2 linked regions of the Homo sapiens genome follow. The protein of the gene in region 1 interacts with the protein of each later gene in a pairwise test. Each region holds a gene or a part of one and is shown on either strand. Other genes may lie near its edges.

The links. Proteins that work in one complex are often made in the same cells at the same time.
Region 2: the proteins of PLXNA1 (region 1) and L1CAM interact in a two-hybrid assay, tested with the Homo sapiens proteins (one study listed by BioGRID).

What each region holds. Positions count from the first base shown.
Region 1 is NC_000003.12:127,033,837-127,038,891, reverse strand, and holds the end of PLXNA1 (plexin-A1 precursor), read right to left. Parts: intron 4,971-5,055; coding exon 4,875-4,970; 3' UTR 1,503-4,874; downstream 1-1,502. UniProt on the Homo sapiens protein: Coreceptor for SEMA3A, SEMA3C, SEMA3F and SEMA6D. Necessary for signaling by class 3 semaphorins and subsequent remodeling of the cytoskeleton. Plays a role in axon guidance, invasive growth and cell migration.
Region 2 is NC_000023.11:153,861,034-153,869,173, forward strand, and holds the end of L1CAM (neural cell adhesion molecule L1 isoform 1 precursor), read right to left. Parts: intron 7,920-8,140; coding exon 7,808-7,919; intron 7,695-7,807; coding exon 7,528-7,694; intron 7,426-7,527; coding exon 7,269-7,425; intron 7,090-7,268; coding exon 6,965-7,089; intron 6,878-6,964; coding exon 6,767-6,877; intron 6,521-6,766; coding exon 6,323-6,520; intron 6,092-6,322; coding exon 6,021-6,091; intron 5,839-6,020; coding exon 5,616-5,838; intron 4,787-5,615; coding exon 4,671-4,786; intron 4,468-4,670; coding exon 4,266-4,467; intron 4,178-4,265; coding exon 4,055-4,177; intron 3,962-4,054; coding exon 3,788-3,961; intron 3,672-3,787; coding exon 3,552-3,671; intron 3,445-3,551; coding exon 3,289-3,444; intron 2,985-3,288; coding exon 2,850-2,984; intron 2,517-2,849; coding exon 2,444-2,516; intron 2,347-2,443; coding exon 2,335-2,346; intron 1,862-2,334; coding exon 1,630-1,861; 3' UTR 483-1,629; downstream 1-482. UniProt on the Homo sapiens protein: Neural cell adhesion molecule involved in the dynamics of cell adhesion and in the generation of transmembrane signals at tyrosine kinase receptors.

The DNA of each region.
Region 1 (5,055 bases):
GGGTGGAGGGTGCCTCCATCCCACCCAGGCCCACAGGCTGGCCTCGCCCTTGCTCTGCAGCAAGCCCATCCAGGTGCCCTGCTCAGAGCCACCAGCATTAATAGCTGATGGTTTAATACCCTCAGGAGCCAGCGCACTCAAGCAGCAATCAGAAGGCCCCATCACCGCTGCTGTGTAATTGCGCCCGATCACTCGCACAGCGAGCGCTGATTGCGGCTCAGAGATGGCTCAGCTTCCAGGCTGATGGGCTGGAGCCCTTGGAGGCCTAATGAGGGTAATTGAGGATGGGCTGATTGTGCCGGAAAAAAGCTGAAGGGGACTGAGCCATGAGAACAGGCTGCGTCACACCCTAAACGGGACCACATTTGCTAAATTTGTTTCCGACACAATTTCGTGGTGATTACACTGATTTCTCTTGAGTTACTGAGCCTGGCACAGAGCTTGTGCTTGCAGCCCCACTGTCAAGATGCGCCTGTTTGAGAGTGGGAGGTATTGTTGATGACTTATGGGCCACTGTCAGCCCTGGGAACGAGTTCATGGAGAGGCTGGTGGGAGACAGGTGGGAGCTTGGGGGCGGTGGGGAGGGCCTGGGGTCCCAAGGGCCTACGTTTGGGCGGGCTGCTGCTTACCACCATGTGGCTGGGACACATTGTGCAACCTCTGTGTGCCTCAATTCCTCAGCTGCAGGTGCAGCTGCCCCTAACCTCCCAGGGTTGCCGGGAAGTCCCAGTGAGTTCACTTACAGGCAGTGCTCAGACGGTCCAGGTTGGGGTCTGCCTGGAGGCGCAGCTGCAGAGCAGGTGCCCAGGGCCCTTGGGGATGTGTCACACCTGACCCTGCACCCACCCTCTGCGGCAGGAGCAGCCACCCCTGTTGAGCCATGGATGAAATGAGCCCAGGGACGGGGCCACTGACCAAAGCCATGCACTGGCAGAAGCTGCATCCACACCTCCATCATTAGTATCTGTACACATTTTCATGAGATGAAGCAGCATAGCCTGTCTCTGCTGGAAAGACCAACATTTCTCAAACCCGGTTCCTTGGCTGCGAGTCTGGGAAACACAATTCCAGCCTTGGCTACTGAAGGCAGGGGGCCCAGGACTGCAGCCTCAGCTCCCCCAGGCTGTCGCTCATGGGCCCCTCGGGGTCAGAATCTGATTTTAGTTAACAAGGCACCCAGGAATTCCTGCCTCACGGCATGGGCTGGAAGCCACTGCTCTGAGCTAGGGGTCACGGGAGAATCGCCTGGGAAGCATCTAAAAGTGACCACCGCTCAGACCCCTGAAGCTCCAAGGCTCCAGTGGGGGTCAGGCACTGGTGTTTTAGTCTCCGCCAAGGGCTCCAATGTGTCACCTGGGCTGAGCGCACCCAACTCACAGAGTGTGGCCATCTGTCCTGGGTGTGGCTGAGTCTCCCAGGGAGATATGCTTCCGTGTTTGGGATGTGGCTGCACTCCTGCGGCCGCCCCTGCTTCCCAGCAAGGAAAACCTGGAGCCAAGAGCTTTTAGCAAAAATGTTTAATCTCTCCTTAATGTGTGTGTTTATTTACAAGTACTAAATCTGAAGAACAGTAAAATAGGAAATAGCCGTATATGTACACATCTGAGGGCCGGGCCCACAGTCAGCGGTGCTGCTTCTGCAAAGAGCCCGGCTGAGGGTGCCCGCCCGGACCGTCCGAGGGATCGCTCTTCTTCTGGGAGGGGGTTCTGCGGTGTTAAAGGACAGCTAATTGTGGGCTTTGTCTTAAAAATATCTCTCTCTCTAAATATATCTATTCTAGCTGTGTAGCACCAACGTGAGCCACTGAATCCAGACAGGGAGAAAGCCAGGGCGGAGGCTCTCAGCAAGGCCGAGCCGAGATGGCACGCCGCTCCGGGCTCTCTCCCGGACTCGACGCTGCAGGTCGTGGGGCCCCCAGCCCCTCAGGCCAAGGGGCCAGTGGTCCTGGGGCTGGGGAGCACAGGGGAAGCTCGAGGTATATCAAGAGGCCAGGCTCCCAGGCCGAGGCGTGAGCTTTTCCAGCACTCCTGAGCCAGGCGCGGGGAGAGGGAGGACACGGAGCAGGGTAGGAGGTGCTGCAGGAAGCAAGTGGCGGCAGCAGCACGCCAGGTGGGTGCCAGTTTCACAGCACATGTGCCGCAGCCCTGGCTCCCTGCAGACACAGGGCCCATGGGAGCCGCTCACCGCTGCTGGGCACAGAACGGCCTCCAACTGCAGCTCCTACCAGGGCCTCCAGCCCCAGGCCAGAGCTCCCAGGTGCTGCACAGTTAGGAGCACAGTGGGAACCAGTGACAAGTAGGGACTGGGGCCTAACTCCACGACCTGGCAGAGGGAGGTACGGAGTAGCTCGGAGACTGCTGTCCCAGTAGACAGCACAGGTAGTCGGCTTGATCCTTGCGCATGTAAACAGATACTGCTAAAGTGCTTGCGCCTAGACACAGCCATGTGCTCTGTGGTGGCCACGCCCCAGCCACACGCCCATGTGGGAACTGCTTCATGAGGCCTGTGGTGCACCCCCTTCATCACCACTGCCGTCCCCACCACCCGCCCATGCTACTCACATGGACAAGGGCAGCCTGGCAGGGCAGAGCAGAGCACAAGGCCTAAGGAGAGTGGGGGTTGGAACTGGATTCTGAAGGTGATGCAGGAGCCCCTACCTAACCCGTGAGGAACTGGAAGAACCAGGGACTTCAACCTGAAGCCAGCATCCAGGGAAGACTTTGGGGGAAACTGAGGTTCCCACCCCACCATAGCCAGGAAACATCAGAAGGGAGGTGGAGGCGCACCCAGGAACAGGAATCCCAGCCAATGCTAGGGGCTACTGAAAAAAACAGCCCAGCCACTGTAATATGGACTGGCCTCAGCTCTGGCCCCCAAGACTGCCCAGGGAGTAAGCCCACCCCCTCAGTGGGCTGGGGGCAGGGGCTGGCCCAGGCCTGAGCTGGGTGTGGCAGCAGCAGAAGGCCCCAGCCCTGGCACAGTGCCCACGGGGCCAAGGAGCTCCCTGAGTCAGCAGTCACTGACTCCACACCGACCCGCGTTCAGGGAAGAGGCGGGTCTCTGTGGCGTCATCTGGCTCACGCTACTCAGCTGGGGCGGACTGCAAGACTGGCACACCCCATGGGGCCGAGTCCTCTCCTTGGGCCTGGCCAAGGACATGGGGCTGAGTCTGGCCACAGTTAGCTGTCCCTTAATGTCCATGGGATCTTCGGTACCATCAAAAAAGTGACCTTGAAAAGGGGATGGACCGCTTGTTTGCTTTTACAAGTGACTGATTAATTAAAAAACATAAAAAAGGGTCTAACAACCTCTAGTATTCAACACTTGCAGTTTTAAAAAGATCAACTCAGACTAAACGCTAGCACAATCATGCATGCCCCGTGGTGCCGCGGCACCCCAGAGGCTCTCAGGGTCAGCAGGAAGTCCTTTCCTTGTCATGTCAAACCAAAACAGCGGCCCGCAGGTCGGGGGGCACAGGCTTCAGGGCTGCTCCACTCCAGGGAGGCTCCGGCCACTTTCTCCACAACCATTTGGCATTGCTTTCCCACTGCCTTCATTTTCTTGTTCAAATCGTCTTTAAAATTCTTCTTCAGTTAACTGTACAGTACCCCACTGGGGCTGGAGCCTGAGGCTAGAGCCACATATATATATATGCATATATATACATGTACAGCTTTCTTTTAAGAATGCATTCTCTCTTGCTGAGGGCAAGGGTGGACACCGCTGGCCTCCAGTCCCTCTGGTCACTGCCCGTCACTCATGGCCCAGATAGATCCAGGCCACTGCGGGCCAGAGGAGCCCTGCCACAGACCTCAAGGCCCAAGCAGAGTGCAGCAGAATTTTTTCCCCTAAACACAAAAACAGTCCCCAGATGTCCCACTGCTCTGGAGGGGCCAGGACACTGCTGAGATGCCACACTGGAAGCCGCTGGGGCAGGGACAGAGAGAGTGGAGAGAGAGGAGTGCTCAGGGGCCGCCCTCAGGGGCTCCAGGGTGGGGAGCTCAGCCTACCCTTGAAGACAGCTGCCAGGGCAGCCTGTGTAGGACGCGGAGGGGAATAAATAACGGGAACGTGCTCTCTGCGACCCGGGGCCCCTGGCCCAGTGGCTCCCAGAGGCACAGCCCTGAGGACGGAGAGGGGCTGCCCGGTCCGTCTGGAAGCCACCCAGGAGTCTGAGCAGCCTGGCCCACAGCCCCTCCATAGGAGGGAGCAGAGCCTCTCTGGGGCGAGGTGGATGTGGTGCTCCGGCCTCGGCCGCGCAGAGCACGCGGTGAATCTGAGGATGGCAGCGGTGCAGCGGGCATGGGTGCTGGAGGTGGGAGTCGGTGGCAACGGGCCCAGACCGACTTGAGCTCCTCTTGCCCGGCTACGGGCTTTTTGCCTCTTTCTCCAGCTGCCAACCGGGCCCCGGGACCCTCAGACTCTGCCGCCTGGGGGCAGCTTGGAAAGCTGGGAATGCTGACACCCCCAGCCTCTTGTCCTGGTCTCAAGGGGACAGCCCAAGCTGGCTACCCCTCCCCCTGGAGGGCCCTGGCCTCACCCCTCAGCCCCTCAGAGGTCAGCCCTTCTCCCATGAAGGCCACTGGGCAGCTCTTGCCAGGCAATGAAGGTCCTTGGCCAGCCTGAGCACCCAGTGCTGTCCCGGCCCCTGAGCAAGCAGCTGTGTGCGCAGCTGTGGTGTGGCAGGTACCATCACCTCCACACAGGAAGAGCCGGGACCCGACCGGGTGAGGCAGGGGAGGGAGGGCCGGGCAGTCGCTGCACTGCGGCGGCCCGAGCACCACCGGACACTCCACACGCATGCGGTGAGGGCTGTCCCGGTCCCTGCTCAGCTGTCCTCACGCTGCATCATGCTGGATGATCACAGCTGGGGCTCAGCTGCTCAGGGCCATCGTGTCCACCACCTGCTCCAGCTTGCTCCGCAGCCGCTGCCGCCGCGCCTGCTCATCCTTCTCCAGGGCTGCCAGGATCTGCAGGGCCAGGAGAACTGTCAGCATGCCGGGCCACCAGCCTCCATGCACTCAGCAGGCCCAGGGCAGATGCCTCCAGAGTAGG
Region 2 (8,140 bases), on another chromosome or scaffold:
AGCCTGGGAGACAGAGTGAGACCCTGTCTCAAAAAATAAATAAATAAGGTGCTTTGTACTGGTTTAGAGGGCTGGGTACCCCAGAGAGAACGATGCCACCGGGGCACATCATGAGTCTTCCACTGAGCCATGGAGCTGTGTCCCTTGAGACAGGGGAAGAGGCTCCTGCCGCTGGCCACACTCTACTCTCATGTTTGAGCAGTGAAGGGCCCGGCCATGGTGACAGCTAAGCTTGGTCTCAGGAGGCCAGCAGAGGCGAGGATCCTGAGCCCCAGCAACAATGTGACAGCAACACCCAAGGCAGCCAACAGCCAGGCCTGGCAGGGTGGGTGGAAGGCCCGGGCTCTGGGAAGGGGCAGGGAAGCATCAGGACTGTGTGGCTGGGCCACACCCGGGCCCGCCTGGCAGGTCGCTCCTAGCACCTCCCACAGTGTGACGTGGACAGGGGAAGTAAGTGTTCCGCGAAATAACAAAAGGTGCTCTTGATTTTCAGGTTTTATTTGCCTGTTATAATTCTGATATTATGTACATATATATATATACTTTTGTTTTTTTGTAGAGGGCTTATCAGTAGACCAAGCACAGGCATACAGGGAGGCTGTGGCTGCTGAGCAGTGCTGGGAGAACCAATCTTTCCTTTTTTTTTGTCTGTTTTTATTTTTCCTGGGATGGGTTCATCAAAGCTAATTGCTATCAATCCTAGAAACCACCTAGGGACTCAGACATCTGCCTACACACTAGTGGCGTAAAGGGAAGGACAGGGGTACAAACTTTCAAAGTCACGGTGTATTTACATTCCCAAGGTGGGGGCGGGAGGAGGCTGAGGAAGACAACTGTTCAGACGATAGGGAGGGCAGGGCTGCTAAGGGGTCCTGGGGGGTGGGGGCGGCTGGAAGAGGCCGGCCAGTGGGCAGTGGGAGGAGGTGTGCCCGCCCCGCAGCCAGGTAGTGACGGAGGCCACTTGGATGTTGTGTGGTGGGTACCGAAGGCAGCGTGTGTATGGAGCTCCTGAAAGCCGGCCATGGGGTGGGCTGGGCGGCGGGAAGAGGCGGTGCTGCCAGAGTGCGATGCTGGGAGTGGGGGGACTCTGGGCTCTCCAGATGGCCTCCCCTGCCCCCGCGGCCAGTTTGCCCGGCTCCCATCCCGGTTGGAGCAGAGATGGCAAAGAAAAGACAGCAGATGGTGGGGACACCGAGTTCTGTTCCCAGTCCCAGCCAGGCTGGCTGGGGAGTGGCTGGGGGAGGGGGAAGGTGCCAACCCTGGTCCTGAGGAGACCCCACCATGTCTGCCCCCAGTCAGGGAGCAAGAAAGACAGCATTTCGGAGACCCTTTCGGGCCACCCCTACTTCTTCTCCCCCAAACCACAGCCTCTCTGCCCAAATGGGCTGGCAAAACAGCACCCAAAGGCCCCTGGCATGTGGGAGATCTGCCCAAGCTGGGGCAGAGCAGCGTGTGCCCAGGAAGGGGTGCAGCTGGGTTTTGGCAATAAAGTGGGGACCGGGTGGTAGGAAGGGGATCCGAGGCAGCAAGTTCTCCTCTGCCCCAACTCCAGCCTCCCATGGGCCTGCTGGAGAGGGAGGGGCCTGGATCCCAAGGCCAGGGGCACAGCATCTCCTGTCCTGGACTCCACTATTCTAGGGCCACGGCAGGGTTGATGGGGGAAGTGGCCCCTGAGCTGTCATTGCCCCCTGCCGCCTCCTTCTCCTTCTTGCCACTGTACTGGCCAATGAACGAACCATCCTCGTTGAACTGAACATCCACGCTGCCCCCATAATCGGCCAGGCTGTCGTCACTGCCCAGGGGCTTGATGTCCCCGTTGAGCGATGGCTGGCTGCTGCCAAAGGCCTTCTCCTCGTTGTCACTGCAGAGGCACAGGGCAGGTGCGAGTGAGAGCACTGCCGAGCCCCTGCAGGAGCCTGGCTGGGGGTGAGGCAGACGCCCGCCTGCCTTCCATTTGTTTAGAATGCGCTCAGAAAGAGCAGCTCTGGCCACCCTGGCAGGCAGGTCTGGAGCTGTCATCTTTGGGCATTCCCCAGATCCTGGGGACTGTGAGGGAGAAAATGTGCGCTCGGCCAGGGGATTATGGGGCCTGGTTCCTGTCTGGGAAGCTGTCTGGGGCCTCCCTTGGGGAGAGGGGAGCAGTGAAGGTATCTGTGTGGAGAGGAGGGGCTGGGGCGTGTTGGCCTCTCCCTGAAATGAGGAGCTGCCGGGCCTGGGGGCTGGGAAGTGAGAGTCCTGTCAGAGCCCCGGCAGCCAGGGGACAATGGCACACCAGGCGCACATTGTCTATAGGGAGACCTTGCTGTTGGCCCCTCCCCACCGCCCCTGCCTTACCTCTCCAGGGACCTGAAGTCACCCGGCAGCACAGAGAAGAGAGAGAGGGGGTGAGATGTGAAGGCCAGGGTGGAGCTGAGTGCCAGCACCCACTCCTGCCCCGGCTCACCTGTACTCGCCGAAGGTCTCATCTTTCATCGGTCGGGCCTCAGAGTCCACCTGGGTGTCCTCCTTATCCTTCACTGGAGACACAGAGAGGGACAGCTTCTTCTCCCGCCCCAGCCTGACCCGGGGCTCCAGGCCCCTCTACGCCCCGCACCCCCAGCACTCTGTCTCAACAGCGCCCAGAGGCAAGAGGCCTTGAAAGAAACCGCTCACCCCCTGCGGTCCAGCCACCACTTGCCTGTTGCCCCAACCCCGGCCTGGGAGGATGATCCCCCTGCCTGCCCCCACCATGCGCCTGTCATCTTGTGGGGAGCTCGGGGAATCCAGGAGGCCTTGCAGAAGGGTGGAAGGGGCGAGGTGCTCCTCTCTGCCCTCGGCTCCACCCCCGTCACGTGGGGCTCAGAGGCTACCTGAGTATTTGCCGCCCTTGCTGCGCTTGATGAAGCAGAGGATGAGCAGGACGAGGAGCAGGAGGATGATGGCACTCACAAAGCCGATGAACCAGCCCTCAGTGGCGAAGCCAGCAGGAGGGAGCCTCACGCGGCCTGAGGGTGAGACACCAGCCCCCCGTGCTGCCGCCCAAGCCAGAACCCGACCTGAGGCCCTGAAGTATGCTCTTAAAGTTGGGGCCCTCTGGGGGGCTAAGGAGTGACAGGGACAGGGAAAAGGGCATCTGCGGAAAGGGTATGAAAGGGGGCTGATTCGGGGACACCCAGATTCTGGGAGGAGAAGCAGACAGGAGCCGTGGAGGGAGCCTGGGCAGTAGTGGCCATTCAGGGGACAGAAGGACATGAATTGTGCAGCCCCCATGCTTCCCTGGCAGGTGATGGCGGGCCCCCGGCGCCTCACCTGTGCCATTGGTCTTCACAGCCATTTGGTGCCGGAACATCCTCTCCTTAAACAAGTGGATCTCGTAGTCAGTGTCAGGCTGCAGGTCCCACTGCGTGTAGGAGCTCTGGTTGTAGCTGACATACTGTGGCGAAAGGGAAGCCCCACCCTTCTCTTCTGCCAGGGAGAGAGGGTGGCAGCAGGGGTGAGTCGGAGTGCCAGGCAACCCCTCTGGCCCAGAGCCCCCTTCCCCACCACGCCCCAAGGCCCCCTTTCACGCTTACCTCCCAAGGCTTTGAACAAGATATGGAACCTGAAGTTGCACTGGCCCTCCTTGGGGACCCAGGAGACGACACTGTAGTTTTCACCCGCTGTGGCTGAGATGTTGCCAAAATCTGAGATCCCTGGGGGGATGCAGGGGAACGAGGAGAGTGTGGCAGCTGCCAGGAAGTCTAAGGCCCTCCCTCCTGGACCCGGCTGGCCGGGGCCTCCCTGTTGGCAGGTCATTCCTCCAGCTTACCAGACAAGGCCATAGTGCCTCCTTCCCGTACGATGGCTTCACCAGGGCCCTCTTTGGTGGTGGCCTGAAGCTGGAAGCGGTACCGCAGGTGGGGGCTGAGATCGGTCAGGTTGTGTGTCCGAAGTTCGGGGTCCCGAAGGTTGAAGGACAGTTGCCCCTTGCCCCCCTCATCCACTGTGGGGACAGACAGGGGTTGGCTGTGGCTGCAGCTCTGCCCCCTCCCCGTGGCCCCTCCACCTCCCTTCCCTGCTGGGGCGGCGCACGCACGGGGGTGGTAGGAGAGCACGTAGCCGGTGAGCACGCCGTTGTGGCTGAGTGGGGGCTGCCAGCGCAGCAGCAGGCTGGTGTTCGACTGGCACTCCAGGTGCAACGCCTCGGGGTGGCCAGGCACTGCAGGGCACAGAACCGAGTGGCAGGTAGGTCCTCGCCCAGGTCTGGGGAGGAGGGCAGGGGATGAGGCGTGGGGTGCAGGACTCACCTCCCTCTGGGGTGCTGAAGGTGAACTCGCTGGCGGGCCCCGATCCTCGCCCGTTAAAGGCCTGCACCTCCAGGTGGTAGGAGCTATAGGGCCGCAAGCCACTGAGGATGACACTGGTGGTGTTGGCGGGCACCACCACATGGTCTTTGTGGATATGTCTCTTGCTGTGCTTCCTCTGACTGCCCTCCCTCCAGTACGTCACCTGCACAAGCGAACAGGAGACCTCGCAGGGGCAGAAGGCACCCAGCAGGGCCCCCAGCGCACACCCCCACCACCCTTAATGGGGACCCTCCTCTCAACCCAAGTCTTCCAGGAGAGCGGCTGGCAGGTGGCAAAGCCCCCTCACCATCCTGTCGCTTTACCTCAGTGATCACCCTCCTGGGCCCCCATGCCTTCAACCCTTACATTGTATCCGCGGAGGTGGCCCTTGACCTGGGCCAGGTCCACCGGCCGCCACTTGACCAGCACGGCACTTGAGTTGAGGATTTCAATGCCTTCCAGCTCAGGGATTGCCTGGGGGTCTGGAAACCACCAGTGACTTGGATAGAGCCATAGGCTCTCACCCCAGCCCTGAGGCCAGGCCCAAGCCCCTACACACAGAGAAGACGAATTCGGATATTTTATGAGGTACAGTTTGAGGAGGAGAGGTGTGTTTGCATGGTCTCAAGATCTCTTCCTGGACTGCTTATTAGTTGCAAAGGTGAAAATAGTAGCTTATACAAAGGAGAAACCATGGCTGGGCGTGATGGTTCACACCCGTATTCCCAACACTTTGGGAGACAGAGGCGAGTGGAACATTTGAGGTCTGGAGTTCGAGACCAACCTGATCAACATGGTGCAACCGCATCTCTACTAAATACGAAAATTAGTTGGGTGTGGTGGCGCGTGCCTGTAATCCCAGCTAATCAGGAGGCTGAGGCAGGAGAATCGCTTGAACCCGGGAGGCAGAGGTTGCAGTGAGCCAAGACCGCTCCACTGCACTCCAGCCTGGATGACAGAGCAAGACTCCATCTCAAAAAAAAAAAAAAAGAAAGAAAAGAAAAGAAAAGAAAAAAGAAAAGAAAAAAAGGAGAAACCAGAAAAAAAACTTGACCGGGTACTTCAAGTTACCATCTGGTCATGTTCCAGATTCAAGGAAATGAAAGAAGCAGCATTGGCTGATATAACTGGAATACCGCTGCCAATTATAGAAATGTGAAGTGTGGGGAATTTCATAACGTCGCTCTGGTTATGTAAGAGAATATCCTCATCCTTAGGAAAGGCGCACACCAATGCTGAGAGGTGTGGACATGGGCTGGGGTGGAAGCAGGCGAGCTCAACCGTGGGCGAGGGGCCCTGCCGGATACTCACAGTCCTCTCCAGAGTAGCCGATAGTGACCTGGGGCTCTGGTCCCTTGCCCTGGCTGTTGACGGCCTGGACTTTGATCTCATAGGGCACGAAGGTGGACGTGTTGGACACCACCAGGAAGGGGTCGCTGACAATCTGCTCCTGCCAGGGCCCTCGTGTCCCCTGAGGGCGCCACTGCACGCGGTACTGAACCTGGGGGGCGTTCCAGTCCATCCACCGGAGCGGCTGGAGGAGGCCAGCAGAAGAGGAGTTGGTTGGCCAAGAACACCAGCATTCTTTGGCCCGCCCCCCAGCACAAACCAGCATCCCCAGACATCAGCCCCTTCCTTTGCATAGCCAAGGGGGAGCAACAGACACCCAGGTCATGGCCTCATGTCCCCCAGGCAGCTCAGCCCAGGGACTCTCACCTTCCACGTGATGACCATATTGGTGGTCTCATTTCCTTCCCCCTTCACATCCACAGGGTTCTTCTCTGGGGCTGGAAAGGAAAGTATTAACACATCAATGCTGCAGCCTCTTTTGGAGAGCCACGAGGACCGAGGGCCAAGGAACAAATGGCTCATTCTGGCACCAAGGGAGTCCAGCCCCCTCGCGCTCCCCCTGGAAATTTGGAAGCAGAGGAACTTGGGCATGGCACCTCTCTAAGCCCTCCCTTCACAGCCCGGAGCCCCTTCCAGGTGGCATGGGAGTGGGTGCCACCCTGACTCACCTGCCTCAGGTGTGACCACAGTCTCAGAGACCGGGCTGGGCTCCCCGGGGCCATATTTGTTTATGGCAGTAACCCTAAAGGTGTAGTGGACATAGGGCGACAGCTTGAGGGTGGTAGAGGTCTGGTTCCCTGGAACCTTGCCCAGACTGTACCATTTTTCAGGCGCCATTTCCTTGTCCTCAAATTCAATGTCATATTCTGCCAAGAAATGAACCGACAATGGAGTGATCAGCATGTGGCTTTGGGGGAAGGGCTGTGGAGGGGTTGGGTACAGTCTGGGTCCCTGATTACCCAGGCCAACTGGCATCTCCAGATTCCCATGAGGAACCGTGAGTCCCCCCAAACCGTGTCCCCCCAGGAAGGCTCCAGGAGGAGGGAGGACCCCAGGAGGGGCCAGGGCTGGCAGAAGTGACGGTGGGGTGGCACTGAGCTCAAGCCTCTTACTCTCAATGGGGGCATTGTGGTCTTCTGCAGGACTCCAGGACACGCGCACCTGGCTCTGCGTCAGCAGGTGCAGGTCGGACAGCACCAGCCGTGGCACCGGCCCAGGGCTCCCTGAGGGTGGGGAGGGTCGGTGCTTGAAAGGGCCCAGGGATGTGAGCCCCGGCCTTCTGGAGTGGAGGCTTCCACCCTAGGACTTACCCACCACCAAGAGCTGTGCCCTACTCTCCACCACATCCAGTTCGGTACTGGCCACGCAGCTGTAGTTGCCCTGGTCGCTGTAGTCCAGGCTGTGGATGACCAGGCGCCCATCCTCTATGAAGTACCTGCGGAGGAGCCGTGTCTGTCTTTCCTGCCATCTGGGCTCTTCTCCCCTCCCATCCCTCCCTCCTGTCTCCTTCCCCCGCTCCTGTCAGAGCCTTCCCCATCAAAGCAAGGACGAGGCCAAGAGGTCTGGACTTCCAGCTTTTCCCACTCTGCCCCCTTTCACCGTCACTGTCCTCACTTGTCACTGTCCCCAAGCTCCTGGAGGTCTCGACCGTCCCCACGCCAGGTGATGCTGGGCTGCAAGGAGGGGTCAAAGGAGGCCTGGCACGTGAAGGTCACCCTGGAACCTTTCTTCTCGATTGTGCTGCGGGGCCCCTGAGTGATCTGAGTTGCATCTGAGGGTAATGCGTGCGTGGGGAAGTCACTCTGTTGTCCTCCAGAGGCCCAGACCCTCCCTCCCAGAGGCACTGCCAGCCATGTGGCAAGGGTTGCCTGACCTTTAACCTTCAGGTTAGCCATGATGGTAACATTGTTTTGGTCATTGGCAGCCAGGCAGAAGTAGCGTCCGGTGTCATTGGCCTGGAGGTCTCGAATGCCCAGGGTCCCATTGGCATAGGGGAAGAAGCGTTCGTCCTGAAGCACTGTTGTCCCATCCTCGTCCAGCCTGGAGGGAGCAGGGCGGGCCTGGCTCTGACTGGCTGGCCTGGGCTCCCTGCCCTCCCTGGCTCCCTGGCCACTGGGACACGACACTCACCACTACCAGGACGAGACACTCACCACTGAACACTGGGCACAGGCGCTCCGAAGGCCTTGCACAGAAGGTAGGCAGTGCTGCCCTGGACAGCCATGTACGTCTGATTGTCCGCAGTCAGGATCTTGGCTGGCAGCTCTAGGGGAGGAACAGCCTCAGGAGACAGGGCAGGACTTGGGACCACAGCTGGGCCAGGAGCCAGGGACCCTCTGCACGGCTTCCTCGGGCCCCCAAGAGCCCTGCAAATCTTGCTTCCCTGCTCCCAGCTGAGGCCCCCGCCAGGCTGTGTCTCTCTCTGCCTTCAGACACTGCCCTCTGCCTCAGATGCGCCTCTGGTCACAGCCACCCAACTTTTACGT